5 separate regions of the Homo sapiens genome follow, and regions 1, 2, 3 and 5 are each linked to region 4. Evidence: fine-mapped expression QTL. A gene starts in region 4. Each other region holds a variant in brackets. All regions are shown on one strand. Distances are between the middles of the regions.

The links. PIP is the estimated chance that this variant, and not a neighbour inherited with it, causes the effect.
Region 1: its variant is the best candidate, but not a certain one, in a credible set for the expression of SESTD1 in whole blood (INTERVAL, PIP 0.71).
Region 2: its variant is the best candidate, but not a certain one, in a credible set for the expression of SESTD1 in regulatory T cells (Bossini-Castillo 2019, PIP 0.68).
Region 3: its variant is the best candidate, but not a certain one, in a credible set for the expression of SESTD1 in whole blood (INTERVAL, PIP 0.74).
Region 5: its variant is the best candidate, but not a certain one, in a credible set for the expression of SESTD1 in nasal epithelium (TOPMed, PIP 0.59).

Annotation. Positions count from the first base shown.
Region 1 is chr2:179,347,280-179,353,684 of GRCh38, forward strand. No RefSeq gene overlaps it. Among named protein-coding and RNA genes, the nearest start is that of SESTD1, 86 kb to the left of the region's middle. The variant C/T (reference allele first, on the strand shown) is at 3,304.
Region 2 is chr2:180,203,392-180,209,796 of GRCh38, forward strand. No RefSeq gene overlaps it. Among named protein-coding and RNA genes, the nearest start is that of EPCART, 81 kb to the left of the region's middle. The variant A/AT (reference allele first, on the strand shown) is at 3,395.
Region 3 is chr2:179,088,178-179,094,582 of GRCh38, forward strand. No RefSeq gene overlaps it. Among named protein-coding and RNA genes, the nearest start is that of CCDC141, 41 kb to the left of the region's middle. RefSeq lists an enhancer at 5,692-5,861. The variant G/A (reference allele first, on the strand shown) is at 3,364.
Region 4 is chr2:179,261,652-179,268,056 of GRCh38, forward strand. SESTD1 (SEC14 and spectrin domain containing 1) reads right to left here and starts at 3,181. Exons shown (of 18, transcript NM_178123.5): 1 at 2,848-3,181. RefSeq lists an enhancer at 1,913-1,982 and silencers at 2,311-2,474, 2,583-2,652, 2,663-3,282.
Region 5 is chr2:179,281,690-179,288,094 of GRCh38, forward strand. No RefSeq gene overlaps it. Among named protein-coding and RNA genes, the nearest start is that of SESTD1, 20 kb to the left of the region's middle. The variant A/G (reference allele first, on the strand shown) is at 3,388.

The DNA.
Region 1 (6,405 bases), 86 kb after region 4:
AGACCAACCTGGTTAGCATAAGGAATCCCCATTTCTATTTAAACAATAACAACAACGACTGGGCTCTGTACTAGTTTGCTAGAGTTGTTGCAACAAAGGACCACAAAATGCATGGCTTTCACAACAGAAATTGATGGTCTCGTAGTTCTGGAGGATGAGAAGTCCAAAATGCAAAATGTGTCTGCAGGGTTGGTTCCTTCTGGGGGTCCTAAGGGAAGGATCTGTGCCAGGCCTCTCTCTTTGGTTGTAGATGGCTACCTTCTCCCTTTGTCTCTTTACATCATCATCCTGCTATGTGTGTCTGTGTCCAAATTTCCCTTTTTATAAGGACACCATTTGTGGTAGATGAAGGTCTTCCCCTAATGACTTCATTTTAACTTGATTATCTCTGTAAAGACTCTATCTCCTACTGAGGTCACACTCATAGGACTTTGATATATTAATGAATTTGGGGGCAGTGGGGACGATACACTTCAACTCATAATGTAATCCAAAGTGAGTTTTAGTTTATTTTATGCTTTGGAGAAAAATCACTTTACCAAGAAAGACAAGATTCATACTAGTTCTAACTTTTTTATAGCCCACGATAGCATCAAAACGATGTGTGCCCAATATAAGCTCTCTATGACAGCCATAGTAGCTGGTGAAGGAGGTAGATGTGGGGAAAAAATCTTAAATTAGATAATAAAGAAGACTTCAGGGCCTCTCTCTCAAATTCTCCCATTCAAATGGTCTGTCTCTTTATCAAGCAGTTCTTTTTTTGAGACAGAGTCTTAATCTGTCGCCCAGGCTGGAGTGCAGTGGTGCGATCTCGGCTCACTGCAACCTCTGCCTCCTGGGTTCAAGTGATTCTCCTGCCTCAGCCCCCTGAATAGCTGGGATTACAAGTGCCCGCCACTGCGCCTGGCTAATTTTTGTATTTTTGGTAGAGATGGGGTTCCATCATGTTGGCCAGGCTAGCCTCGAACTCCTGACCTCAAGTGATCTGGCCTCCTCGGCCTCCCAAATTGCCCGGATTATAGGCATGAGCCACCATGCCCAGCCTCAAGCAATTCTTTCATGAGTGAGGTGTTCATTATATTCTTGAGCACTACATGAACATTTTAAAAGACATGCATGGTAGCATCTCAGAGGGTAAATCTGAAGGGACCTCACTGCCTTGATAAAAATCAGAGAACAAAATTGAACTTCTAATGTGACCGCAAAATGGCTTCATCAGATAGGAGAAGGGGAAATCATGAAGAAAATGCTTTCTTTTCTACTCTTCAAAACTAAAATAATAAACCAATGTGTACCTGTAGACTTAATTGGCTGAAGAAAATAAGTGTTCTAGAAATAGATCATACAAATAACTCAAATACCTCAGGAATATATAAGACTGGGGTTTCAAGGCAATGGAAACCCAACTGATCAGCAATAACTAAGAGCAAAAACCCTTGGGAGGTGGATGGGTCATTCTTCCCAAATACCAAGTAGAGAATCATGATTCATGTCACCAAAATGATCCAGGGTTTTGCAGAATTTGAAGAGGCACTAAATGCGAAAGCGGCAAGCAAAGAACAATTGACAGAATTATAATTCAGATCTCAGTTCTTGGCATCTTTGAAGAGTGTTCTAAATTTTGCAAGTGATACCAGGCAGGGACACAAGCTATAGTCTTCCTGCTTTAATCCGCAGTCTACAGGCTCAAAACTAATCCTGTGAAGTCAATGAGTATGAAAGATCCAAAGGCTCCTCCTGTGATTAGATTTCCGACTTCCCTTGGAGCTGCCATTCATCACAGCTCCCTGGCCTTGTGCATGACTTCAACATGAAACATTTCTCAGGGAATCGTTTATGCTGGAACTCTGGCCAGCATCCCTCCAGAAGCAGAGCTGAGAACTGAAGAATCTTTAGAAAGGAGAGGAAACTGAAAGTAGGACAGCCCTTGAGAGCACATTTATCCCAATGGCTTTTGGTGTGTTGTCAGATGCAAAAATTTCCAGTCTGAAGAGTTTTAATATTCCTATCCTTTCTAGCTGAAATATGGTTTCCTTCTTTTCTAAGCATCAAAGGATGATGTCACCATCCTTCCAAGTCATTTAGGAACAAGGCAATAAAGTAGATATTTGGTAATGATTTCACCCAGACTTTGATGAAAAGCAGCAAATCATGGTTCTTCCTGAGAAATATTTGCTTTTGTATTCTATGTCCAGATTGCCATTTATTCTGGTGTGTGCAAACACAGAGGCTGTTTGATAATCTTGTTGCCTCCAAGACAACCTTATTCTCAGTTTAGGAATAAGCCAAATGCATAAATATCCTTTTCTTGCCTTTGAAATGATGGTATTTATAAATACTTCATGATTTATTTCAGACGCACCCAATTTAGTGGTTGGGCAATTTAAATCTCCTCACCAGAAGATTCAAATGCAAAGATATCTACCAGAATTTTAGTTTTATAGTTGAGATATAAATACACACAGAAAAGTCTATAAATACAGGGGCATGAGTAACTCCATATCATAAATATTTTATTCTCAAGTTCATATTTTTCTTTCCATCACATAGACCTGTGATATGTGGCTGAGATGTGCATGAGTGACAAATCTTTCCAGCAGATACATGATATGAGTAGTGAAAATTGTCTTAGTGAGTTAGTTGTTGTTTGTAAGGTGGCAAGGACACACTCTCTCTTCCTGAAAAATTAGTCCACTGTATCCTTAATATGTTTAAGAATAAGAATGAGTTAACTATTGCCTTCTGCTTAAAAGTAAAAATTAGGATGTCTTTTCTCAGTAATTTATATCATGCTATAAATAGTATTTGCTAATAATATTAACAAGGAACTGACCTACTTCCTCTTTTTAACCAAGAGATAAAAGGTAACTGACTTTCCAATTACTGAGTACTGCTTTTGCTGGAAACTTGTCTCATTTCATAAATATATTGAAATAATTTAAATTCTAAGCCTAGAAAAAAAAACTGGTAGAATTAGAATTCTCTGGCTTTCTTATCAGGACGAGCAGAAAAGTATGCCTAATCTGGCTCCTTGGCATTGGAGGTCCAGAGGAATTATTTGGATGTTTTCAATTAAAACCTGACAAAAGATAAATTGCTGTGTGAATGACAGGAAAAATCAAATGCTGATTTTATTAGAAGGAACTCATTAGGGAAACACATTAAAACCAGGAACTGATGGGACCTTATGGTTCTGGGAGACAGAAAGTGGGTCTATTGCCACTTAGAAAATGTTTTAAAACAATATAAAATGAGTTCCACAAAGTACAGACAATGATAATGCAATTAGATGTTTCAGTTCTT[C/T]GGATGGCCAGGGACTAGCCATACTGACCAACCATAGCATACCAGGCATGATGCCTGGGCTGCGTGTACTGGACTAGGAGTGCTCCGAGGGCAGGGGCTTCGTCTGTCTCACCTTTGATGTTCCAGTGGAAAATGATATATGCTTATTATCAAAATTCAAAAATCATTGAAAATACTCAATAAAGAAAATGAAAAGAATTCAGTCCACTCCCTTATAGATAATTTATTGTTGGCTCTTTGGTAAATCAGCATTTGATTTACTAAACCAAATTACTTTTGGGGGTTAATCTCTTTCTATCATTTATCCATCTATATTAGATATCAAGGTGGAAATATTTTTTGTTATCTCAACCACTGGTCTGAAAATTTATTATAGATTGAGGCCAGTTTTTGTTTGGAAAGCCAATACATGATTGAGTTAAAAGAAAAACCTTAAAGATGTTGAAAAGATATTGGTTGATGCACAAACTTCAGAGAACAGGGTAGAATTGCTCTGCATGAGAAAAGGAGAGGAGTTCTTTTTTTTTTTTTTTCCTTCCAAAAAAGGGCAGAGAGAAGAGTAGAGAACAAATAATCCAGGGAGAAGTAAATGAGAGGGAGGGAAGGGGAGCCAGAGGAGGCTGTGAGACTAGGAACTGTATGGAGGAGGAGTAAAGAGAAGAATTCATGTTGCCGGGGTGCCCAGGAAACATTTGGAGACCAGCAATTTCTTATAGGGGCATCATGGCATTAGCAGTGCAGCAGGCAGTGCCATGTTTCCCCTAATGGCTTAGTAAAGACTTTTATATCTACAGAATAGTTGGTGTGAGTGAGCTTTTCCTGTGGGAACAGGGGTGAGTGTCAAGACCATATTGAAGCGGTGTGGAAAAAAAGCCCATATGTGTGGAAGCAGGCACCCATGGGCTGAGAGACAGAGGTGGCCAGGAGACACAGCCCCTTACTTCTTTGCTGCATGATTCCCCCTAAATTCACAGAACACTTGGAAACGTTTTAGACTCTACAGGACCTGGAATTGGCAGTGTTGAACCACTTCTACCTTTAAGAGTCAGAAAGACCCTAGAAGATATCTTGTTTATAATTACGCTAATCCAAACCATGATGGTGAGACTGCTCCCCCAGTCTTATTGATTAAGATGCAATCTGCTCTAAAGAATGTGTCTCAGATATCTCTAATGGATTTTGGTACCTAATGTGTGCTAGGGAACACATCCCTGGCATTCCTCTCTTCTGGTCCTGACTTCATGTTAGTATCCCTCTTGTTCCAGTGATGACTCTCACCATCTCTACTCTGGAGGACATGGCTGCTATCTGGCAGTGACCGCTGCCCACAAATATGGATGTGGGCTCTACCATAATTTCCCCTTACAGAAGAACAAAGACTAATGGAAGGAGAGTCCAACACGGAAGATACATTGCTTCTGCAGTTCAAGTCCATTTTGCTGTAGGTCACCTATGGGCCTAGCCACCTTCCTGACTTGTCATCAGCTTTTCTCTGTGTTGTCAGGCCCAGGTCAGGACACCTGGCTCCTCACAGTCACCGAGTCTCAAACCCAGAGAAAAAAGAAAAAATTTCTCCTCACCTCAGACTAATTCCTACTCACTAAGTCCTCATTTTTTGTCCCAGGATGAATATCTTCCTAGTATAATGGACAGTGGAGAACTTCTATCTGTTATAGGGAAACCCAACTACTATATAAAAGAGTGAGACTGGCTCTGTGATCCCAAGAAGAAAATAACAAAGATGATGCTTTTTCTATCATGTGGGTTAGACGGCCTTACCCTTGGGCAACTTGATGTAATATTGTTTTTACAAAAGAAATATGTAAAGTAGGTCGAATACAATTTTCCATTTCCTCTTTCACTTGACAATACATTTTGTATATCATTCCATATATGTCAACTTTATGCTTTTTAATAGCTGCATGCTGTTCCATAGTTGCATGGTTATACTATAGTTTGTTGATGAACATTTTGGTTGTTTAAACAAATACTGCCACAAGTATTTATTTCAAAATACTTTAATAGATGATGTAAATCTAGTAAGTATCCCAACATTTACCATACAACACTTTTTAAGTTGTGGTTAAATATATATATAACATAAAATTTATGATTTTAACAATTTTAAAGTATAGAGTTTTGAGGTATTACGTACATTCACATTGTGTGCAACAATCACTACCATTCATCTTCAGGACTTTTTCATCTTCCCCAGCTGAAACTTTGTACCCTTAAAGACTAACTCTGCATTCCCACTTCATTGCAGCCCCTTGCAACCACTCTTCTATTTTCTGTCTCAAAGAACTCTACTCCTCTAGGTACCTCATATAAGTGGAATAATACAGTGTTTTTCCTTTTGTGACTGCCTTATTTCACTTAGCATATGATTTCTTCAAGGTCCACTGATGTTGTAAGCATGTATCATCATTTCCTTCCTTTTTAAGGCTGATAATATTTCACTATATGTATATACCACATTTTGTTTATTTATTGGTTGATGGAACTTGGGTTGCTTTTGACTATTGTGAATGATGCTGCTATGAATGTAGGTATACAAATATCTGTTTCAATTCATGCTTTCAAGTTTTTGGGGTTTATATTCAGAAGTGAAATTATTGGATCATATGGTGATTCTGTTTAATTTTTTAAGGAACTGCTACATTGTTACCCATAGTAGCATTTGAGTCATTTTTAATAAAATAAAAGCCATATATATTTTTTTATTTATTTATATGTATCTGTATTATATATATTTATATATCTGTATTTTATATATATAAATAGCTTATATATATATAAATAGCCATATATAAATGGCCCTATCCTACAGAAATGCTTTACATAAAGGTACAGATATCTGTAGGATAGGGCTGGGAACAGTGGCTCACACTTGTAATCCCAGCACTTTGGGAAGTCGAGGGGGAAGGATAGTTTGAGGCCAGGTGTTCAAGACTAGCCTGGTCAACATAATGAGACCCGGTCTGTACAAAAAATAAAAAGTTAGCTAGGTATGATGGTGTGTGCCTATAGTTCTAGCTACTCAGGAGGCTGAAGCAGGAGGACTGCTTAAGCCCAGAAGTTCAAGGTTACAGTGAGCTATGA
Region 2 (6,405 bases), 940 kb after region 4:
ATTTCTTCATAATTAATATTTTTATTTTATTTAAAATAAATTATCAACTTAAAGGGAGATTTTCCAGAGGGTGAGTTGGAAGGTTTTTTTTGCTCAAAATTTTAAGAGAGCAAAATTGCGTTCTTATATTATCACCAGATATTGAAAATACACAATATAATGAGAACTCATTACTGTTTTTAGCATTGCTTCAATGGTAGAGACTGATCTACCATTGAAGCTCCATGTATCTTGTAGCTGTCCGAGTGTTGCTCACATATATTCTGCTTTCCACCTCTCCAAGTGCCATTTTTGAAATCTCTGTGAGTTAGGAGTGTTGGAGGTTGTTGCCAGTTGGGTTCTCTAGAAGCAGAGAGTGAGACGGCATTTGGAGAAACAAGATGTTTATTAGGAGCCAGTATCTGTGAAGGAAAGGAGTGGAAGTGGGATTGGGAGAGGGAGAAGTTGTTTTGTGATACCTGGCTGGCTGTGTCTCAGCAAACTGGCTAGGAGCTCTGGAGCAAGTACTCTTCCTTAGAGGACTTATCACTGGGCCATCCTGGGAAGCATGTTGTCCTATGGAAGATTGTGACCGTGGGCAGACAGTGCTTTGCAGCTGAGGCAGTCCCTGATGAGGCTGACAGTTGGGGGTGGTCTGTTGATAGCACTCGCCACACTCGATCAACAAGTACTTCCAAGAAGAGAGATCTGAGTAATACATCTCTGGATCTACTACATGGATTTGGAAAATAAGCCAGGGCTCAAGAAACAAGCTAGAGGCATGAGTCTGCATAGTCAAGCCACCCACCCAGAGAGCCAGGAGATTAGAAAACAAGGGCTACAAGGCATTGCTTAAGAGACCAGAAAGCATGAGTCAGGGACACAGGCCCAGGCCCCAGAGCAGATCATGTCCAGAGCAAGGAAGGAGTCTGACTAACTGACATGAGCACCAAGAAACAGGAAAAAATTGGATACTGAGCCAAAGTGCAGGGAGAGAATTTTGATATCACACCAAAATTCTAGTTTCCATGTTTTTGCAGCTAATGGTGGGCAACTGGTTTGAGAGGGAAGGCGGCTATGATTTCCTAGATGAAGGGCAATTAAAATATGCTCTCCAAATTTCCAATTTGCTTGCTAACTCAAATTTGCTTGGAACTTTACAGCTTACCTTCATTCCAGAGATACAGAGGATCTTCCATGAATCTCTGGGGGAAAAACAAAATTCTATGAATTTGAATTCAGAAAATATGCAGTTTTTGATTCTCCAGTGACTGTGAATCACAATCACTTTGTTAACAATGTGGTTTTTCTTCTTTCCAGAATACTATCTTTGTTATCTTCAAAGAAATAATACATAAACCAATTTACCATTAACTAATGTATTCAACAAATTTAAGTGTCTCCTACACATATGCTAGGCACTGTTCTAGGGAGTTGAGTTAAATCGGTGAATAAAACAAAGATTCCTGTCTTTGTTAACCTCAACAGTAAGCACACAGTAAACAAAATAAATAATACGTAATAGTAAGTAAGTAATAATATGGACAAACAAAAAGTACGTCAGGATTAAGAGTTGGAAGCATAGTAAATGCAGGGGAAAAATTTCTGTTTTTATAGGATGCTCAAAGTGAGTCTCTTTGAGATGTTGACATTTCAGATGTTGATATTTGTGCAAAGTCTTGAAGGCAGTAGTGTTGATGAGCAAATAGTCCTGGCAGAGGGCTCTGCTAGTGAAAATTCCCTAACACTACAGCATGCACAGTGTATGCAAGGGACAGTGGAGACTCTTGCGGTTGGAGCACTGTGAGGGGGTGTGGGAATGATAAATATCAATACAGTAAGGGGTGAATGGGTGAGGAGATGGTTTAAAACTTAGGCTTCAACTCCGAGTTTTAACCCCAGCTCTATTGCAGCTTTTTGCAGAAGTTCATCATCTGATGTGCTTGCTATCCTGGCTACTCTTGAAAAATAAAACAGAGGGTAGGGGAAACAAGGCAGAAGGACATGACCAGTTAAGAGCCTGGTTCAGTAATCCAGCTAAACAAGAAATTGCCTTCATTTCTGCTGTCAATTGAAAAAATAAAAATAAAAAGCCCATGTTAACACTGTTGCTATTGCTCTCACTGGACTTAGATCTAACACTCAATGTCAGCAAAGGAACTGCACATTGAGAGAAATTGTCTATCATTTGGTAACCTTTATTCTTTCAGGACTAAAAGGTGACATGAAATACCAGAGAGCATGTCTCTCTCCTTTGTGCTGCTCTGCGGCATTTCAGGATCTGAGAAGACTATTCTAGTATTGAGGTTTACATACCATTACGCCCGGAATTCTGTCCAACTCTTCCCAGTGCAGCTTTTGTCCTCAGAAATAATTTTTGAAGCTGAAATACTCAGTAGGACACAGGCCTCTTTTTGTCTTTTTTTTCTTTCTATAAAACAACACATTCAAGAAGGCCAAAGAACAGTTACCACATCAGTAGAGAAGAAAGAAAGGGACGTGTCATGTTTAGAACAACGGTTGGGTGAAAGAATGTGCTAAGTGTGGGTAAGTTTGACAGAAACAAAGAAAAAGTTAAAGGAAATGGAGCCTCCTGGGAGGGAAGGCAGAACACAACTCAGTCAGATCAGGAATCAATGACATGAACACTGCTCTGTCTTGAAAAGTCAGAAGCCCTGCCCAGGGCACACTGCCCAAAGCCCAACAGCTTAACATCTTTTCACTCTTGGTAGGTGGATATTCTGAAACCAGGTTTTGATTCTCAGATTCCTTCTTTCTGTGGAACTAAACATTCTTAAAAGTAGTTTTTGATGACGCTTCTCTAGATACCAACATTGCTAAACTTTACCTTTTCTCACTTGCTTAAAAGAGTACCATATTTGATTTTCAAAGACCTTGTGAATAGCCCCTTAAAATGTTTCATTTTTTTAAGTGGGCAATTGAATACTGTGTGTGTGTGTGTGTGTGTGTGTGTGTGTGTGTGTGTGTGTGTGTGTTTTCCTCCTTAGGATAATATTATCTAAATTCTAGTAAGTTTATATTCTTTAAACACAAAATTGTTTTCATAGGTCAAAATCTCAGTATCTGATAGGCAAGTAGAAAAGTTTGAAGAAAAATCCCCTGTGAGCTTAGAGTTCTTTTGATCTGCTGTCAGATACCACCTGCAATGTTTTCCATTACTCCACCTGATTTTTAGAAACCCTGCATCTGCCACAGGACACTCAAATTGCCGTAGACATTGTAGACACCGATACCATAACAGCTACTTGAAATTAGAAGATAGAAATGTAATGAATAGGAGAATTTTACCTCCACTGTTGGTTGATAAACCCCATGTTGCCCTATAAGGCAAATTCCTTCTAAGGCCACAGTTATATAAAATGCATCAAACACAGTTTGCCTGATTGTTTTCTTC[A/AT]TTTTTTTTTTTTTTTGAAATTCAAAACAGTGAGTGGATACTCTCAATCATAGCCTATTGGGGAACTCCTGAAAACTCCGCAGGAGACACGAATGGTGCTGAAAAGTCAAGAGGAAAAGGCCTGCTGATGGTCTGGGAGGGTGTGATAGCATTGATGGTATGAGTCTATAGAGGGTAGGACTAATCAATCTCCCCACTCATTTGTCCCACCATTTCCCTTTTAGGCCAGGAATAGCTTCAATTATATTATTGGACACAAAGTCTGGTGGTAAATAAATCCTTGTGACGTAGCCATATTTGAGCACTTGTTGTGTGATCCAAACTTTAGTAAGCAAATTGAGATGGAAAAATGAACTATAAGACTTGACACTTTCCCTCAAGAAAGTTCCATTCACGTTTGGAGAAAAGACAAACCCTCATGAAGTAGATTTGAGCAATGAAACATAATATGTCATTATTTGACTGAATATGTGATAGACAATTTTCTGCAAGAAAATTGGAGCTTTCATAAATAACCTCCCAAAAAATGGGCCATCATGTGCAGAGCTTAACACAAAGACATTGCCTTAATTGCATCCTTACTGTTAAATACAAATTGCAGAAAATGAGATATTTATTCTTAAGATGTTTTCATGGAAACAGCAATTTATGATGGAATATCAGCAATAAGAGGTTTTTGGAAATTAACAATGCAGGGATGCAATGATAGAAACCATTTCTTATTCATTTGAATTAATAAAACAATGTAAGTTATAGATATGTTTTATTTGGACTACACAGTGTTAGATCTCATAGTATTTGGACATAAGAGGCAAATTAGTGAAGATATTTTAATTATTGGGAGACGTCATATAGAAAGCCAGATTTCCAGCTTCTCTTGAAACATCAGAAGAGGTAGTTCCACCAGTTCAGCATTCTTACAAGGCAACAATCACCCAGCATGTTTTAATAGTTCATATTTTTTACCTAGCCTCCTGTTGGCATTTGACTTTATGATTTCCTGATGAGGTCCAATCTCCAAATGCAGTCGTGCCTTTTGCAACATTCTTCCTGCTTGAACACATTACATGGAAACTCACTTGTCTAGGCAACCCATTCTAGTGTTGGACACGTCTTAGTATGCTACTGAAAAGCTCTTCATTTACAAAGTGTTTGTTCATTTCCTTTGCCTACTTTTTAATGGAATTTTTGCTTCTCAACTTGTTTAAGTTCCTTACACATTCCGGATATTATGCCTATCCAGATATTATACGTATACCAGATGCATAGTTTGCAAATATTTTCTCCCTTTCTGTAGGTTGTGTTTACTTTGTTGATAGTTTATTTTGCTGTGCAGAAGTTGTTTATTTTAATTAGGTCCCACTTGTCAAGTGTTGTTTTCGTTGCAATTGCTTTTGGCATCTTGGTCATGAAATCTTTGCCTGTTCCTATGTCCGGAATGGTATTCTCTAGGTTGTCTTCCAGGATTTTTATAGTTTTAGGTTTTACACTTAAGTATTTAATCCATCTTGAGTTGATTTTTGTATATGGTGTAAGGAAAGGGTCCAGTTTCAATCTTTTGCATATGGCTAGCCAGTTATCCCAGCATCACTTATTAAATAGGGAGTTCTTTCTCTAGTGCTTGTTTTTGTCTACTTTGTTAAAGATCTATTATTTCCATTGGTCTATGTGGCGGTTTCTGTATCAGTACAATGCTGTTTTGATTAGTGTAGCCCTGTACTGTAGTTTGAAATTAGATAATGTGATGCCTCCCGTTTTGTTCTTTTTGCTTAGGATTGTTGTGGTTATTTGGGCTCTTTTTTGATTCCATATGTATTTTAAAATAGTGTTTTCTGGTTTTGCAAAGAATGACATTAGCAGTTTGACAGGAATAGCATTGAATCTGTAAATTGCTTAGGGCAATATGGCCACTCTAATGATATTGATTCTTCCTATCATTCAGCGTGGAATGTTTTTCCATTTGTTTGTCCAGCACTCTTTTGAATAAAAATTGTGACAGCAGACTTCCTTATCTTATTTTCAGTCTCATGGAAAATGCATTCAGTCTTTCACATTAAGATGAATATTAGCTGTAGGTTTTTTGTAGATCTTTGTCAAGTTGAGAAAGTTTCCTTTATTCCTATTTTTCTAAGAGTTTTTATCATGAATGAGTGTTGAATTTTATCAAATGCTTTTTCTGCCTCATTTGATATGCTCATGTGATTTTTCTTCTTTAGCCTGTTAACATGGACCACATTCATTGAATTTTTGAAGACTGAATCACCCTGGCAACCATAGAACAAACCACACGTGGTCACAGTATAGGGGTCTTTCTATGTATTGCTTAATTTTATTTGCTAAAACGTTAAGGATTTTTATGTCTATAATTATGAGGCACATTGGTCTGTATTTTTTGTTTGTTTGTTTGTACTGTGTTTGTCTGGCTTTGGTACCAGGGTAATGCTAGCTTCATAAAGTGAGTTGGAAAGTTTCCTTCCCTTCTATTTCCTGGAAGAGATTTGTAGAATTGGTGTTATTTTTTCTTTAAACATTTGGCAGAAATTTGTGAAACCATGTGGGTCTGAAATTTTCTTTTTTGGGAGTTTTAAAATTACAAATGTAATTTTCTCAGTATTACAGGACTATTTAAATTATCTATTTCATACTAGGTAAGTCATAGTAGTTTGTGTTTTTCAAGAAATTGGTCGATTTTATCTAAGTTGTGGATATATAGAATTGTTCATTGTAACTCTTATTATCATTTTGATGTTTGCAGGTTCTGTAGTGACATCCCTGTTTCATTCCTATTATTAGTAATTTGTGTCTTGTCTCTATTTATTCTTGCTGGAGGCTTGAATATTTTCATATTATGTTTTGAGACTCTGGATATTATTTAAATCTGTTTTAGCTGTCTTTCTCTGACACTGCTCTGGCCTGGAAAGAGAGGAGAAGACACGGGCTTTGTTAGGGCCAAGTGGAGGAAGATGTCTAGTTTCCCTATTTGATCACTGTTGACACCCAATGTGAGGGTT
Region 3 (6,405 bases), 170 kb before region 4:
TGTCTTCTTTTGAGAAGTGTCTGTTCATATCCTTCACCCACTTTTCGATGGGGTTGTTTGTTTTTTTCTTGTAAATTTGTTGGAGTTCATTGTAGATTCTGGATATTAGCCCTTTGTCAGATGAATAGGTCGTGAAAATTTTCTCCCATTATATGGGTTGCCTGTTTGCTCTGATGATAGTTTCTTTTGCTGTGCAGAAGCTCTTTACTTTAATTAGATCCCATTTGTCAATTTTGGCTTTTGTTGCCATTGCTTTTGGTGTTTTAGACATGAAGTCCTTGCGCATGCCTATGTCCTGAATGGTATTGCCTAGGTTTTCTTCTAGGGTTTTTATGGTTTTAGGTCTAACATTTAAGTCTTTAATCCATCTTGAATTAATTTTTGTATAAGGTGTAAGGAGGGGATCCAGTTTCAGCTTTCTACATATGTCTAGCCAGTTTTCCCAGCACCATTTATTAAATAGTGAATCCTTTCCCCATTGCTTGTTTTTGTCATGTTTGTCAAAGATCAGATAGTTGTAGATATGCGGCGTTATTTCTGAGGGCTCTGTTCTGTTCCATTGATCTATATCTCTGTTTTGGTACCAGTACCATGCTGTTTTGGTTACTGTAGCCTTGTAGTATAGTTTGAAGTCAGGTAGCGTGATGCCTCCAGCTTTGTTCTTTTGGCTTAGGATTGACTTGGTGATGCGGGCTCTTTTTTGGTTCCATATGAACTTTAAAGTAGTTTTTTCCAATTCTGTGAAGAAAGTCATTGGTAGCTTAATGGGGATGGCATTGAATCTATAAATTACCTTGGGCAGTATGGCCATTTTCACGATATTGATTCGCCCTACCCATGAGCATGGAATATTCTACCATTTGTTTGTATCCTCTTTTATTTCATTGAGCAGTGGTTTGTAGTTCTTCTTGAAGAGGTCCTTCGCATCCTTTGTAAGTTGGATTCCTAGGTATTTTATTCTCTTTGAAGCAATTGTGAATGGTAATTCACTCATGATTTGGTTCTCTGTTTCTCTGTTATTGGTGTATAAGAATGCTCGTGATTTTTGTACATTGATTTTGTATCCTGAGACTTTGCTGAAGTTGCTTATCAACTTAAGCAGATTTTGGGCTAAGACAATGGGGTTTTCTAGATATACAATCATGTCATCTGCAAACAGGGACAATTTGACTTCCTCTTTTCCTAATTGAATACCCTTTATTTCCTTCTCCTGCCTGATTGCCCTGGCCAGAACTTCCAACACTATGTTGAATAGGAGTGGTGAGTGAGGGCATCCCTGTCTTGTGCCAGTTTTCAAAGGGAATGCTTCCAGTTTTTGCCCATTCAGTATGATATTGGCTGTGGGTTTGTCATAGATAGCTCTTATTATTTTGAGATACGTTCCATCAATACCTAATTTATTGAGAGTTTTTAGCATGAAGAGTTGTTGAATTTTGTCAAAGGCCTTTTCTACATCTATTGAGATAATCATGTGGTTTTTGTTTTTGGTTCTGTTTATATGCTGGATTACGTTTATTGATTTGCGAATGTTGAACCAGCCTTGAATCCCAGGGATGAAGCCCACTTGATCATGGGGGATAAGCTTGTTGATGTGCTGCTGGATTCGGTTTGTCAGTATTTTATTGAGGATTTTTGCATCAATGTTCATCAAGGATATTGGTCTAAAATTCTCTTTTTTGGTTGTGTCTCTGCCAGCCTTTGGTATCAGGATGATGCTGGCCTCATAAAATGAGTTAAGGAGGATTCCCTCTTTTTCTATTGATCGGAATAGTTTCAGAAGGAATGGTACCAGCTCCTCTTTGTACCTCTGGTAGAATTTGGCTGTGAATCCATCTGGTCCTGGACTTTTTTTGGTTGGTAAGCTATTGATCATTGCCTCAATTTCAGAGCCTGTTATTGGCCTATTCAGAGATCCAACTTCTTCCTGGTTTAGTCTTGGGAGGATGTATGTGTCGAGGAATTTATCCATTTCTTCTAGACTTTCTAGTTTATTTGCGTAGAGGTGTTTATAGTATTCTCTGATGGTAGTTTGTATTTCTGTGGGATTGGTGGTGATATCCTCTTTATCGTTTCTTATTGTGTCTATTTGATTCTTCTCTCTTTTTTTCTTTATTAGTCTTGCTAGCAGTCTATCAATTTTGTTGATCTTTTCAAAAAACTAGCTCCTGGAATCTAAAAAACTAGATTCATTAATCTTTTGAAGGGTTTTTTGTGTTTCTATTTCCTTCAGTTCTGGTCTGATCTTAGTTATTTCTTGCCTTCGCCTAGCTTTTGAATGTGTTTGCTCTTGCTTTTCTAGCTCTTTTAATTTGATGTTAGGGTGTCAATTTTAGATCTTTCCTGCTTTCTTTTGTGGGCATTTAGTGCTATAAATTTCCCTCTACACACTGCTTTGAATGTGTCCCGGAGATTCTGGTATGTTGTGTCTTTGTTCTCATTGGTTTCAAAGAACATCTTTATTTCTACCTTCATTTCCTTGTTTACCCAGTAGTCACTCAGGAGCAGGTTGTTCAGTTTCCATGTAGTTGAGTGGTTTTGAGTGAGTTTCTTAATCCTGAGTTCTAGTTTGATTGCACTGTGGTCTGAGAGACAGTTTGTTATAATTTCTGTTCTTTTACATTTTCTGAGGAGTGCTTTACTTCCAACTATGTGGTCAATTTTGGAGTAGGTGTGGTGTGGTGCTGAAAAGAATGTATATTCTGTTGATTTGGGGTGGAGAGTTCTGTAGATGTCTATTAGGTCTGCTTGGTGCAGAGCTGAGTTCAATTCCTGGGTATCCTTGTTAACTTTCTGTCTTGTTGATCTGTCTAATGTTGACAGTGGGGTGTTAAAGTCTCCCATTATTATTGTGTGGGAGTCTAAGTCTCTTTGTAGGCCACTCAGGACTTGCTTTATGAATCTGGGTGCTCCTGTATTGGGTGCATATATATTTAGGATAGTTAGTTCTTCTTGTGGAATTGATCCCTTTACCATTATGTAATGGCCTTCTTTGTCTCTTTTGATCTTTGTTGGTTTAAAGTCTGTTTTATCAGAGACTAGGATTGCAACCCCTGCCTTTTTTTGTTTTCCATTTGCTTGGTAGATCTTCCTCCATCCCTTCATTTTGAGCTTATGTGTGTCTCTGCATGTGAGATGGGGTTCCTGAATACAGCACACTGATGGGTCTTGACTCTATCCAATTTGCCAGTCTGTGTCTTTTAATTGGAGCATTTAGCCCATTTACATTTAAAGTTAATATTGTTATGTGTGAATTTGATCCTGTCATTATGATGTTAGCTGGTTATTTTGCTTGATAGTTGATGCAGTTTCTTCCTAGCCTTGATGGTCTTTACAATTTGGCATGTTTTTGCAGTGGCTGGTACT[G/A]GTTGTTCCTTTCCATGTTTAGTGCTTCCTTCAGGAGCTCTTTTAGGGCAGGCCTGGTGGTGACAAAATCTCTCAGCATTTGCTTGTCTGTAAAGTATATTATTTCTCCTTCACTTAGGAAGCTTAGTTTGGCTTGACATGAAATTCTGGGTTGAAAATTCTTTTCTTTAAGAATGTTGAATATTTGTCCCCACTCTCTTCTGGCTGGTAGAGTTTCTGCAGAGAGATCAGCTGTTAGTCTGGATGGGCTTCCCTTTGTGGGTAACCCGGCCTTTCTCTCTGGCTGCCCTTAACATTTTTTCCTTCATTTCAACTTTGGTGAATCTGACAATTATATGTCTTGGAGTTGCTCTTCTTGAGGAGTATCTTTGTGACGTTCTCTGTATTTCCTGAATGTGAATCTTGGCCTGCCTTGCTAGATTGGGGAAGTTCTCCTGGATAATATCCTGCAGAGTGTTTTCCAACTTGGTTCCATTCTCCCCATCACTTTCAGGTACACCAATCAGACGTAGATTTGGTCTTTTCACATAGTCCCATATTTCTTGGAGGCTTTGTTCGTTTCTTTTTATTCTTTTTTCTCTAAACTTCCCTTCTCGCTTCATTTCATTCATTTCATCTTCCCTCACTGATACCCTTTCTTCCAGTAGATCGCATTGGCTACTGAGGCTTCTGCATTCATCACATAGCTTTTGTGCCTTGGTTTTCAGCTCCATCAGGTCTTTTAAGGACTTCTCTGCATTAATTATTCTAGTTATCCATTCGTCTAATTTTTTTTCAAAGCTTTTAACTTCTTTGCCATTGGTTCGAATTTCCTCCTGTAGCTCGGAGTAGTTTGATCGTCTGAAGCCTTCTTCTCTCAACTCGTCAAAGTCATTCTCCATGCAGCTTTGTTCCATTGCTGGTGAGGAGCTGCGTTCCTTTGGAGGAGGAGAGGCACTCTGATTTTTAGAGTTTCCAGTTTTTCTGCTCTTTTTTTTCCCCATCTTTGTGGTTTTATCTACCTTTGGTCTTTGATGATGGTGATGTACAGATGGGTTTTGGGTGTGGATGTCCTTTCTGCTTGTTAGTTTTCCTTCTAAAAGAGAGGACCCTCAGCTGCAGGTCTGTTGGAGTTTGCTAGAGGTCCACTCCAGACCCTGTTTGCCTGGAATATCAGCAGCAGTGTCTGCAGAACAGTGGATATTGATGAACCGCAGATGCTGCTGCCTGACCGTTCCTCTGGAAGTTTTGTCTCAGAGGATTACCCGGCCGGGTGAGGTGTCAGTCTGCCCCCCTACTGGGGGATGCCTCCCAGTCAGGCTACTTGGGGGTCAGGGACCCACTTGAGGAGACAGTCTGCCCATTCTCAGATCTCCAGCTGCGTGCTGGGAGAACCACTACTCTCTTCAAAGCTGTCAGAGAGGGATATTTAAGTCTGTAGAGGTTACTGCTGCTTTTGTTTGTCTGTGCCCTGCCCCCAGAGGTGGAGCCTACAGAGGCAGGCATGCCTCCTTGAGCTGTGGTGGGCTCCACCCAGTTGGAGTTTCCCTAGCTGCTTTGTTTACCTAATCAAACAGCTAACTCAGAAATGGTGGGCACCCCTCCCCCAGCCTCGCTGCCACCTGGCAGTTTGATCTGGGACTGCTGTGTTAGCGATGAGTGAGACTCCATGGGTGTAGGACCCTCTGAGCCATGTGCGGGATATAATATCCTGGTGTGCCATTTTTTAAGCCAGTTGGATAAATGCAGTATTAGGGTGGGAGTGAGCCGATTTTCCAGGTGCCATCTGTCACCAATTTCTTTGACTAGGAAAGGGAATTCCCTGACCCCTTGCACTTCCTGGGTGAGGTGATGCCTCGCCCTGCTTTGGCTCGCACATGGTGCGCTGCACCCACTGTCCTGCACCTACTGTCTGGCACTCCCCAGTGAGATGAACCTGGTACCGCAGTTGGAAATGCAGAAATCACCCGTCTTCTGCATCACTCTCGCTGGGAGCTGTAGACTGGAGCTGTTCATATTTGGCCATCTTGGCTCCTCCCCCCCAATTTCTTTCTTAATTTCTTCTTTGACCCAATGGTCATTCAGGAGCATATTGTTTAATCTGCATGTATTTGTATAGTTTCCAAAATCCCTCTTGTGATTGTTTTATAGTTTTATTCCATTGTGGTCAGAGAAGATGCTTGATATTATTTTAATTTTGAGGGGATATTTTAAGGCTTTTTAAGTGACCTAATATATGGTCTATGTTTGAGAATGATCCATATGCTGTGGAAAAGGATATGCACTCTATAGTCATTAGATGAAATGTTCTATTAATATCTATTAGATCCATTTGGTCTATAGTGCATTTTAAGTCTGATGTTTCTTTGTTGATTTTCTATTTGGAATATCTGTCCAATGCTGAAAGTGGGGTGTTGAAGTCTCCAGCTATTATTGTATTGGAGTCTCTTTCTTTAGCTCTAACAATATTTGCATTATATATCTGAGTGTTCCAGGGTTGGGTCCATGTATATTTTAAATTGTTATATCCTCTTGCTGAACTGACCCCTTTATCATTATATGGTGACCTTGTCTTTTCTTATAGTTTTTGTTTTGAAATCTATTTTGTCTGATATAATGATAGCTACTCCTGTTCTTTTTTGGTTTCCATTGGCATGGAATATCTTTTTCTATCCCTTTATCTGCAGTTTATGTATGTCTTTATAGTTGAAATGTGTTTCTTGTAGAAAACAGATCAATAGGTCATGTTTTGTGTTTCTTTGTATCCAAAACTCTGTCTTTTATTGGAGAGTTTAGTACATTTACATTCAATGTTATTGTTGATAAATAATGATATAATTCTACTGTTTTGTTTTCTGTTTGCTTTGTGGTCTTGTTTTCCTTCTTTCCTTCCTGTCTTCCTTTTAGTGAAGGTAATTTTCTCTGGTCATATGATTTAGTTTCTTGCTTCTTATTTTTTCTGTATACGTTGTATGATTTTTGGTTTGAGATTAGCTGATAAAAACACTGTTTGCATAAACAAACATGCAAGCAATCAAAAAGTAAACTAATATTGTATACCTT
Region 4 (6,405 bases):
GATGTGGAGAAAATGGAACCCTCATTGCTACATTGCTATAACCCTACATTGCTAGAAGGAATGTAACCCTTCTAGCAATGTAGAAGGGTTACCCTAGAAAATGGAACCCTACATTGCTAGAAGGAATGTAAAACAGTGCAGCAGCTATGGAAAACAGTCAAGCAGTTCCTCAGAAAGTAAACAGAATTACCATATAACCCAGCAATTACACATCTAGGTATACATCCAAGAAAATTGAAAGCATATATACCATACAAAAACTTGTAAATGAGTATCCACAACATTATTTATTATGGCCAAAAAGTAGAAACAACCCAAATGCCCATCAGTTGAAGATTGGATAAACAAAATGTGGCATAGCCATATAACAAAATAATATTCTGCCATAAAAGGAATGAAATATTGATACATGGTATAATATGAATAAACCCTGAAAGCATTATGTTAAGTGAAAGACACTAAAGGCCACATATTATGATTCTATTCACATGCAATGTCCAAAATAGGCAAATCCATAGAGACATAAAGTAAATTAGTGGTTGTCAAATATGGGGAAGGGGGAATAGTAACAAAAGCTACCAGGTACAAGGTTCTTTTTAGGGTAATAACGTTCTTGGATTAGTGCCGACATTTGCATAATTTTGTGAATATATTAAAACTACTGAATTGCATACTTTAAAAAAGTGAATTCTATGGCATATGAATTATATCTCAAAGAAAACTATTATAAAAATTTAAGTCTCTGCTTTTTTTTCTTTTGAGACAAAGTCTGGCTGTCACCCAGGATGGAATGCAGTGGTCCAATCATGGCTCACTTCTCTGCTTGCTACTTTTTATTAGTAAATATTCTACTTTCCTCAAGAGGTTGCTCATGTTGCTTGTAACAGCTTTAAAAGATCTTTGAAGTTAGCTACTATACAGATGAATGGTATTTTTAGTAAAGTAAAACTACTATAACAGAGAAACTTTCTAAAAATCGGATTAGTTTGGTACAATTTCATTTTTTCAAAAGAAATGTCATTAATACCAAGTTCATTTTTAGAGAGTGGAAAAGCTTCAACAAGTCCTTATAAAAATACATTTTTTAAAAAGGTCAAAATGCAATACTTTGTTTTCTTAATTATTGGACATTTCATTTTCAGATATATCATTAGTAGATTACCTGTTTAAAATGTCATTAAATGCCTAGCAATGAATTAAAACCCAAGTAGATGCAACTTTGTGACCTCTACTTACAACTTTCTACATTCTGCATTCTGTTGTCAGATTCCTAGTCCATCACTAGCTCCTAATCTCTTACATCAATTATTCCATTCAATTCTTATTCACAGGGGCTAAAATGTTTGGTAAATGCAATCAATTCATTTTTCTAATGCTGGGGAAAAACTAGAGTGGGCCCAATTTTTAAGGTTAAATTTAGTCCAGAATGTTTGAATAAATATTCAACAAAACGATTTCCTGGAATTTGGAACATAAAAACAGCCTATAGAGTTGTGAAATGCTTTCTAGGTCCTTGGGGAATTTTTTCACGTATTTAGTCATGGGGCAAAGTATTACGTATAAAAGCTTCCTGGTCCTAGAACAAAGACGTATTTTACTGCTCAAAGCTAAAGGAATTAGTATTGTTAAACTAAAATAGCATACCAATGAAACCAGCTAGGTATTGGCATAACTTAACCAAGGTATGTAACCAAAGATAAATTGTACCTTATTATGCATTCTTCCTTGGGAGGAAAAATTCTCACATTAATAAGATTTAGCCAGCCAAAACAGAAAAAGTATATAGATATATGTGTGTCTGTGTATGTAGGTATGTATAAGGATTAGGATTTTGAGTGGCAATTTAAATTTGACGGTTTGCCAAGCTATGCTGGGATACATAGTGGGCATGCTTGACACAAGCAAAACGTGAAGTAAGAGACGACCTGTCAAACAGCTGCTATCTAGTTACTCCCTCGGCAGCACTCCCAACTTCTCCCGCGATGTCTGTGTGTAAGAGAAAGATGTCAAAGCACCAAGAAAACCACGGGGGCTGTCAGAGCAACAGCCAAGTCCAAACCGTGCATCCCAGGGTGAAATCCCACCCGTACCCTCAAGAGCTGGTCAGACTGCGGCTCTTTTCTAATATGAGTCTACCTAAAATAGAAAAATAAACACAACCACAGACCCTGGCCAACCCTCTCTCTCCTCCCCTTTGTGACTCTCCCAAACGCTGGAGGGATGTTAACCTCTGGCAGGCCCGTGGAAGCCAAGCCCCGCGACCTGAGGAGGCGTCCAGGAGCCTCGGCGCAGCCCTGGGGCCTCGAGCCCGTGTCCTCCACCCACCCGACAGGGCCGGTCACCGGTCACACAAAGGAGCCAGTCGCGGGCGCTGGACGCGGGACTCGCCCGAGAGCAGGGAGCCACATCTGGTTCCTGCACGCTGGCAAAAGAGACCCGCTGGAAAATAAGGACTAACGCCCAAACCTGTTGCACAATTCGGGTCCCTTTCACCCAGAAATGAACAAGGGCGCTCAGGAACGGAAAAGCGCGCGGCCCGGTCTCTGCGGGCCGCGGCCGCACCCGGCAGACGGCGCGGAGGCAAAGGCGGCCCGCAGGGCTCCCACCTCCGGCGCTTTGTCTGTGGCGGCAAGGCGGTGGGGGCGGTCGGGGCGTTGGGAGCAGAGGCGGTGGCGGGGCGGGGGCGCCCCTCCTTCACTGCGTAGCCCCTCCGCCCCGCGGCCCGCGCAGGGGAAGAAAGCCGGGCCCGCTACCGCCGCCGCCGCCGACTGCACCGGCCCAAGCCGGCCACCCGGCCGCGGGGCCTGCGCGCTTCTCCCGCCCGGGCCGAGCGGCGGCCACACTCACCTGGCTGGCGCTGACGCTAGCGGCCGGCGGCTCCGGGGCGTTGGGGAAGACAGGGGAACGCTAGCGAGGTGCGGGCGGAGGCGGAGGGCGCGGCGGGAGGAAGGCGGGCTGGGGGCGGAGCGGGCCCGGGCGGCGGCGGCAGCAGCGGCGACGGCTGCGGCTCCAGTCACTCGCGGCAAATCGCGTCCCGGCCCCTCCGTGCGTCAGGCGGGGAGCGGGGGTGCGGGTGGCCCGGCGACCTCTCGGCACCCGCGGCCCGAGCCGCGTCCGCGCGACCCCGCGCGCGCCCGGGTGACGGCGGTACAGCAACCCGCCCGGCGCGGGAAGGAGGAAGGAGGCGGGGCGGGGCGGGGCGTCCAACCGGGCCTGGGGCTGAGGGCTGGGCGCGAGTGGGACTCTGGCGCTCCGGACGGACCCTGCCGTCCCCACCCCTAGCCGAGGCCCAGGCTCCCCAGGCGGGAGGCAGTCTTGGAGAGTGGAAGGGTACCTAGATCTGGAGTCAGAAGTCTGGGCTTAAGAGAGGGTCCGTTACTTGACACCCTGGCAGGTCATTTATTTCCTCTGGCCTCATGCTGGAGTTCGAAGGTTCGAGTACAAAGTCTCCAAGAGCTGCTCCCAAGTACTCACTGCCAAGCGGTGGTGTGGCTGAAGGATGAAGGCAGATGAAAGGGAAAGGGTTGCGGTGAGGAAGGGCTGGATTCAGGGCATTTGTTTTGCTTTGAGGATCTTTCCACTGGACAGTCCAAAATTAATCCACAATGGGGCTCCCTGATAATGGCTACTTCCCCATTTTTACCAACCTAGTTATTTTTCTCCAAGTATACTGACTTAAGAGTCCTTGTTTTCATTTTATTGCGCAAATCATTTGTATGTCATTTCCTGAATTCAGTTCAAAAGAGTCATCAGCAAATTCACACCAGATCAGAGCAGCTGTGTGGTCCCAATTTCAAGACTTCCATATTATTCACTCAGCCACTCACTTCAGTATCACCTAATTCCGTTGATAAAATCTTCCTATTCCAACAACTAAGCAACCAAATTTCTCTCCACTAAAGTTTTCTGACTTAAAATCCCGTGGATTAATTCTTCCTCTTAATTCTGTGAATATCAGTCTGTCTCCATGACTTCCACCTCTTTGCCACTCTAGGTCAAGCCTTTAACTTCACTGCTGCTTCAGTTCCATATAACTGCCAGAGAGAATGCTCCAAAAAGACAGAGCTAAGCATGAAACGTCCCTCTTTAAAATCATTCAAAGTCTCTCCACCTGGTTGAATCAGGTTCAAACTCATTACCATGGTTTACAAAGCCATTTAAAATCTGATCTATTGACCTCCTTGGCTCCAGCTTCAACTCCTAATATATCTACGTATCACACAAATTCAACAGACTTTGTCTTTGTGCCCTTGTAGTTTTCCCCCACCTGAAATCCATCCCTCATTTAACCAGTTGAACTCCTATTGTCCTTCAAGATAATGAAGATAATGCATCCCTTCCTCCTTGGAATCTTCCCTGACATCATCTCCTTTCACCACATCTGTATCCTTACCCCACACATTTACAATGAATTAAATACTCTTTTTCTCTCTGCTTTCATAAAATCGTCTATCTACAGTATTCCCTATGATAATCTTTAATACTTGCTTTTTTCCTGTTGCTTTGCTTGGTGGCCTTTTCTTCCTAGACTGTGTGTTCCTTAAAAGGACAGGGATTTTGTCTAGTTCATTTTTTTTGCTCCCCAGAACATAGCACAGTGCTCAGCACAAAAAAGGTTCTCTTTAACTGTTTGCTGAAGCGTTGAAATAATTTTCCATCCCAACAAATAGATGTTGAGCATCTACTCAACGAAAAGAAAATACAGGGAAGTCCACAGTCCCAGCCTTTTTTAGCCTTCCGTGGTATTCTGTTTTTCCCTTCTCTACTATGTGGCATTCTCTGCTTATCATTTTAAACTCTCTCCAACTACCATTCACATTCTTTGCTTATCCTAGTAAAACAAGAGCATGCCAAGCAATCCATTATAATAATTCACAAAATATCCCTGCCCTTCCTCTTTACATACTTCTGGTTCCACATTGTATTACCTAGGTGTTAGATAAGAGGTAACTGCTATAATGGAAAAAACATTAAACTATAAATTCAGAGAATGAAATTTGGATGCTACGTTTTCCAATAACTACTGAATGAACTTAGCTCAATCACTTATAGTCATGAGGCTTTACTTCTGGAGTTTCTTTGGCTCTATGATTAGCATTTGTTTTTAATATTTTATTATAAAAGTAAATATATATATGCTAGATCCTTGCAATGTAGCTATCCAGCATATGTTTGAACTCCAAGTGATAGGAAACCATTCATGACCTCACAACAGTTTTCATTTTTAAACAGTCCTGCTAGTTTCTATGTTCAACTAAAATCTGTCTCTGTATACATTTGGTAAGTAGCTACAGTATTGGTAGAAACACCACTGGACTTAGACTCCAAAGAAGTTGGTCAAATCCTGGGCTTATAACTTCCTAATTGTGTGACCTTAGAAAAGCACAAAACTGCTCCAAGTATGAGTTTGCTCCATTCTAAAAGGAGAAAATGATAATAATAGCACCTTAAATCATTATTGTAAATATGAATGCAATGCGTATGAATGTGTCCAGTGAGTCTGAACCTAGTACTAACATTGTTTAATACAGAACAGCATGGTTCCCCCCCATATGCAGCCTTGTAAACATTTGAAGTCAGCAGTCACAATGTGTGCCTTCTCCACCCACTTTTTATTCACATCTCATTCGTCTCCATACGCATTTATCTAAACATTCTCCAGTGTCTCTTAAAATGTGGCACCTAGAACTGAATACAATATTCCAAGTATAAAGGAAGGAGTAGAGGAGTACAATTTTCTGCATCCTAATGAAGATATTTCAAAATTCAGTTTGATATCACATTATTTTTCTACCACCCCATACCGTTCATAAATATCATGTTATTGCCAACTAAAAACAAGCAAAAATTACCCCCAAATCTTTTTTAAGTCTTTAACATATATACAGCTATAAAACCATATCTTCTCCAACCTGTATTTTGCAATTTGTTTTTGGAAACTGTGCAGATCTTTGCATTTATTCCTCTTAAATATCACTTTGGAAGTTATGTACAGAAGCCCCTGCCAACTAGAAATCAATGTGAAGTGAGAGTAACATTTTAAAAACATTAAAGGGTGGAGAAAAAGAATCCAAAGCCACCTCAAGCAACAAGTTTCTAAATTCTTAATTTCTCCTCTACTACTTCTTTTAGATTTATTAATTATTATTATTATTATTATTAATTATTTTAGAGGGAGTCTCACCGTGTCGCCCAGACTGGAGTGCAGCAGCACGATCTTGGCCCACTGCAACATCCACCTCCCAGGTTCAAACCATCCTCCTGCCTCAGCCTCCCTACTAGTTGGGACTACAAGCATGTGCCACCTTGCCCAGCTAATTTTTGTATTTTTAGTAGAGACGGGGTTTCACCATGTTGGCCAGGCTGGTATCGAACTCTTGACCTTGTGATCCACCCACCTCAGCC
Region 5 (6,405 bases), 20 kb after region 4:
TTGATAAACCCTTAGCCAGATTAGCTAAGTAAAACAGAAGACATGCAAATGGCAAACAGACATATGAAAAGATGCTCAACATCATTAATCATCAGAGAAATGCAAATCAAAACTATAATGAGATGTTATCCCGTCCCAGTTAAAATGGCTTATATCCAAAGATAGGCAATAACAAATGCTGGTGAGGATGTGGAGAAAAGGAAACCCTCGTATACTGTTGGTGGGAATGTAAATTCGTACAACCACTATGGAAAACAGTTTGGAGATTCCTCAAAAAACTAAAAATAGAGCTACCATACTATCTAGCAATCCCACTGCTATATATACCCATAAGAAAAGGACTCAGTATATTGAAGAGATATCTGCACTCCCATGTTTGTTGAGGCACTGTCCACAATAGCCAAGATTTGGAAGCAACCGAAGTGTCCCATCAACAGATGAATAGATAAAGAAAATGTAGTATTTATACACAATGGAGTACTATTCAGCCATATAAAGAATGAGATTCAGTCATTTGCAGCAACATGGATGGAACTGGAGGTCATTATGTTAAGTGAAATAAGCCAAGTACAGAAAGACAGACATTGCATGTCCTCATTTATTTGTGGGATCCAAAAATCAAAATAGTTGAATCCATAGAGATAGAGAGTAGAAGGATGGTTACGAGAGTTTGGGAAGGGTAGTGGGGTGGTTGGGGGGAGGTGGGGATTGTTAATGGATACAAAAAAATAGAATGAATAAATAAGACCTAGTATTTGATAACACAACAGGGTGAGCACAGTCAATAATAGTTTTACATTTTAAAATAACTAGCAGAGCATAATTGCATGGTTTATAACACAAAGAATAAATACTTGAGGGGATAGATACACCATTTTTCATTATGTGATTATTATGCATTGCATGCTTGATCAAAACATCTCATGAACCCCATAAATATATACACCTATATGTACCCACAAAAATTAAAAATAAAAAAATTAAAAATATCATCACAGCAAGGACTATATGGTTTGAATATTTGTGTTCCTCCCAAAACTCATGTTGAAAGTGAATCTCCTATGCAACATTATTAAGAGGAGGGACTTTTAGGAAGCGATCAGCCCATGAGGGCTCTGCCTTCATGAATGGATTAGTGTCCTTATAAAAGGGCTCAAGGGAGGGAATTTGGTCTGTTTTGTGCTTCCATACTTTGACCTTGTGAGGGCATAAGGGCATAGTTGGTGTCACCTATGAGAAATAAGCCTTCATCAGGCACTGAACCCGTCAGTGCCTTGATCTCGGACTTCCCAGTCTCCAGGACCATGAGAAATAAATTTCTGTTACTTATAAATTACTCCATGTCAGGTATTCTATTATGGCAGAACAAACAGACTGAGACAAGGAGTAAGATGAGGTGCAAAAGTGACCCTTGCACTTGGAGATTATTGGTGACCTTAGGAAAAGCAGTTTTGATGGAATGATGGGAGAGGAAGTTTGATTGAAAGGGGTTCACAAGAAAATGGGAGAAAGGTCTTATTTTGCTACAAAACGATAATGCCATGCACTTCTAGGCTTACACGATTTGGGGGAATGAAAGCAAAGCAGTGGGCTATAAGTCACCAGGTCAGACTGACCCAGAGAAAGTGTCCTGGGGCAAGTTGGAGAACTGATGAAGAGCAGCTCTCACAAAGCCAGAAACCTGGAGAGGAGTTACGGTGGTTCCAGATTACTAGTGGGGCATGTGGCTCCACACAGAAGATGAGTTTTGGAGAAACACATCTTCAGATTAGGACTCCAGGATTCCCACAGATTAAAATCAATTAAATGGGAGTTCATAATCAACGGTTATAAAAAATATAAACAAGCAAATTCATGAAAGTATCAGAAATAACCAACATCACATTTAGTTCAATCGGAGTTTCACATACTGGAATGATCAGACAAAGAATATGAAACAAATTATATGAAATGTTTAATGTTTTAAAAGATAGAAACACAAAAATTAAGCAAGCAATAAGAGGCTCTTCTATAAGACCAGGCAAATTTGAAGACAAACCAAATAAAGCTCTTAGAAGTTAAAAAAATAGAATTGCTGAGGTAAAAAGTTTCAATTGATTGGTTAAAGCACACATTAGGCAGAGCTAAATCAAAATATTGGCAAATTCGAGGACCCATCTGAAGAAATGATACAAAGTGCAGCCCAGAACACAAGCAGATAAAATATATGAAATGTTAAGAAATATGCAAACAGTCTTATCAAATTAATAGGAAGAGAGAAAGAGAAAGCCCATTTGCTTCAAAGGCCTAGCAGCTCACCAAGCAGGTGGGCAGAAGATAAAATCCATAGGCTCATGCACACTAATACTGAACCAGAAAATCTGAGGTTGATCCGACTAATATTTTTTCCTTTGCGGGCTGTGGAGGAGGGGGTGGGAAAATGCAGAGCCAGCAGGAGTTTCTCATCCTAGTTATTAATAATAAATGAAATGCATAAATTGTGGAAGCACTTGCAATGTGCATGCTTTAAGATCTTCCTGTAAAATTAATCTTGCCATGTGACATCAGAATTCTCCTGTGAGTAATTTCTTTTTCTGTAGCTACAAAATATTTATGTTTCTGTTATTTATAAAAACCAAAATTCAAATATTCTTTCAAGCCATTATCTTCTTTTTCCTTCCATTCAGTGACAACTTCCTTGTGCGTGAAAAATATCCAGAATTGAAATGATTACTTGTTCACCATTCATTCACTACTTGCAGCCTCCCCACTAAATCAACTGACATAGTTCTTTCAAAGTTAACAATGACTACTTAATTATCATATTCAGTGATTTTTTCCCTCTCTTCCCTCTTTATAGTACTTGATACTGTTAACCACTCATTCCCTTTTTCTTTTAATCAACAAATAGTTATTAGGTTTTCACCAGTCTCTAAACTAGGATCTGGGGATGAAAAGGACATTCTCTGATGTCAAATGTTGTTCAGTCTATTTATCAAAGAAGATGTGCACAAACTATGTGATATAAAGCAGTAAAGGCAAAAAGTAGAACCACAAATGAGGGAGAAATTGCCTCTACCCAGGGAAGTCATGAATGGCTTTACACTTGAGTCTTCTAGAAAGACAGTGTGTGTTGACCAGGTGGATGGAAACAGGCTATGGCATCATTAGTGGCAGAGGAAGTACATGACCAAAGGTGCAGAGACATAAAGCATCCAGGTCTGCTGAGGGCACTGCAAATAGCTCAGTATGTCTAGAACATGGGAACCAAGCTGGGCTTCACAGCTAGAATGAAAGGCAATGCAAAATAACAGAAGACTTTGAACTTATCAAAGGAATTTGGACTTAAACCTATAGGCACTACACAAGGTGCTAACAAAGTTCTCCTTCTCCTTTTTGCCCTTCTTA[A/G]TACACTAGTATTTTGCAAATAACACACTTACTTGCAAGTAGATGGAAGCTGGATTGGAAGGCTATAAGACTGAAGGTAGAAGACCATGTGGGAAACTTGAACTTCTGAGTGAGAAAGGATAAGCATCTGAACTAAGAAGGAGGCAGACAGATGTGAGAGGTGGTGGACTGAGTGAATGACAGTCCCATTGGGAGAGAGGGTATACAAGGCAAAGGAGCAGGGTTTGGGAGGATGTTCTCAGGGATGAGGAGTGTGGGCTAACTGGGCATCCCAAAAGGGGACTAATCCAATTGGTGACCATGTATTTCTTTCTGCCCTTTTGTTGCTATAATATTTATCACTTTCTTCATTATAAAATACATACCTTTCATTGCAGATGATTTCAGCCATTCTGAAAAGCATAAGGAAAAGAAAAACCACCAGTGATCTCATAATACAGACATTTTGGAATATTTGAAAAGATCACACCACTGCACTTCAACCTGGGACAAAGAGCAAGACTCTGACTATAAAAACAAAAACCAAAAAAAGGTGTGCACTATGCACATATGTACATTTTTAGAAAATTGTTTCTTACCCTATGTAGAATGTTATAGCCTGCTTTTAACATTTAATCTGCACCATGAGCACCGTTCTGCATAATAAGATAATCTTTGGATATATCATTTTAATGACTATATAGTGTTTTATCCTATGAATGAACCACCTTTTTTTAACCTATTGATTAACATTGCAATTGACTTATGTTTTGCTCTCAGATATAATGCTATAATGAACATTTTGCATATAATATTAGACAATTTTGATTATTTCCTCGGTACAAATTCCTGGAAATAAAAAATACAGTGTCAAATTTAAGAAAAAACATGCCAGGCACGGTGGCTCACACCTGTGATCCCAGCACTTTGGGAGGCTGAGACGGGTGGATCACTTAAGGCCAGGAGTTCGAGACCAGCCTGGTCAACACAGTAAATAAAACCCCATCTCTACTAAAAATACAAAAATTAGCTAGGCGTGGTGGCACACACCTGTAATCTCAGCTACTGCGAAGTCTGAGGCACGAGAATTGCTTGAACCCAGCCAGCAATGGTTGCAGTGAGCCAAGATGGCACCACTGCACTTAAGCCTGGGTGACAGAGTGAGACTCTGTCTCAAAAAAAAAAAAAAGTTTAAGAAAGAACAATTATAAGGTCTCTTGATACATGCTAACAAACTAATTTCCAAATATATGTCCCAATTCATGTTCCCATTGGCATTGAGAACTTCATTACAATTTTTTTTTACTAAATATATAAGCAAAGATTTCTTCTTTTTAAATTTGCATTTCCTGAATGATAAAATAATATGTTTATTGGCAATTGTATTTTCTTCGTGAATTGTCCCTTCATTATTCATAGATAATTTTTCTATTAGAATGTTGGGTTTTTTCCCTTGATTTATATTAGTTGTTTTTATACTAAGTATATTGACTTTTTTAAAATTCTGCCATACTTTTTTGCAGATATTGATATACAAAGTTTTATAATTATTTTACAGATAATGGTATTTATCTTTTCTTTTGGAACCCTTGATTTTCTTCTCAAAACTCTTCTCTTTCAATGTCCATGACACTGTTTTATCCTGTTTTTCACTTCTCAGTCTATTTCCCTGTTAATGGTGTCTAGCTGACATTTTTTCCTTCTTCACATAGAGACATTTGTCAGTCCTTGGTCCTTTTCTGCCAATATCCTTATACTCAGAGACCTAATCTATCTCAATGCCTCAGTGTTTTTAAATACTGAGTCTCTTAATCTAATTTTTTGAGTACTATATGTACATAATATTAAATTCAAAACCACAAAATAATATACAGTGAAAAATAAGTCTCTTTTTTCTCCCTGACCCTGGGCCATCCAGTTTCTCTCCTAGGAGCTAACCACCACTATTAGAAATAATCTTTTGTGGAACCATCTAAGAATAAGTTATGCATTTACAACTATTCACAATAGCAAAGACATGGAATCAACCTAAATGCCCAGCAATGGTAGACTGGATAAAGAAAATATAATACATACACACCGTGGAATACTATGTAGCCATAAAAAAGAACAAGATCCTCTCCTTTGCAGGAACATGGATGAAGCTGGAGCCCTTTATCCTTAGCAAACTAATGCAGGGACAGAAAACCAAATACCACATGTTTTCACTTAGAAGTGGGAGCTAAATGATGAGAACACATGGGCACATACAGGGGAACAACAGACACTGGGGCCTAGTGGAGGGTGGAGGGTGGGAGTAAGGAGAGGATCAGGATAATCAGGATAAATAACTAATTGCTATTAGACTTAATACCTTGGTGATGAAATAATCTGTACAAGAAACCCCCATGACAAAAGTTTACCTATATAACAAACCTGAGCATGAACCCCTGAACTTAAAAAAATAAATTTTTACAATACAAATTCTGAGCTACATTGAAATCTACCAACAAAAATGGAAAACGTTTATTGTTACCTTGTTAATCTTTAACTTAAATGAAAATACTGATATTGGCCGGGTGCAGTGGCTCATGCCTGTAATCCCAGCCCTTCGGGAAGCTGAGGCAGGTGAATCATTTGAGGTCAGGAGTTCGAGACCATTCTGGCCAACATGATGAAACTCTGTCTCTACTAAAAATATAAAAATTAGCCAGGTAAGGTTGTGCAAGCCTGTAATCCCAACTACTCAGGAAGCTGAGGCAGGAGGATCACTTGAACCTGGGAGGCGGGGGTTGCAGTGAGCCAAGATCGCACCACTGAACTCCAGCCTGGATAACAGAGAGAGACTCTTGTCTCAGAAAAAAAAAAAAAAAAAATTTTAAGGTATTTAGTCAATCCCTTCTTTCAAAAGCTCTTAAGTTTAAAATGTGTTAAATTGTCAAGTTTGAAAATACGAATTGACCTACAAAGTAAAATGAAAATATTTGGATCCTCAATTAATGGCATCTGAAAAAGATAGGATATTATTTAACAGAATTAGAAGTATTTTAAAAGCAGGAT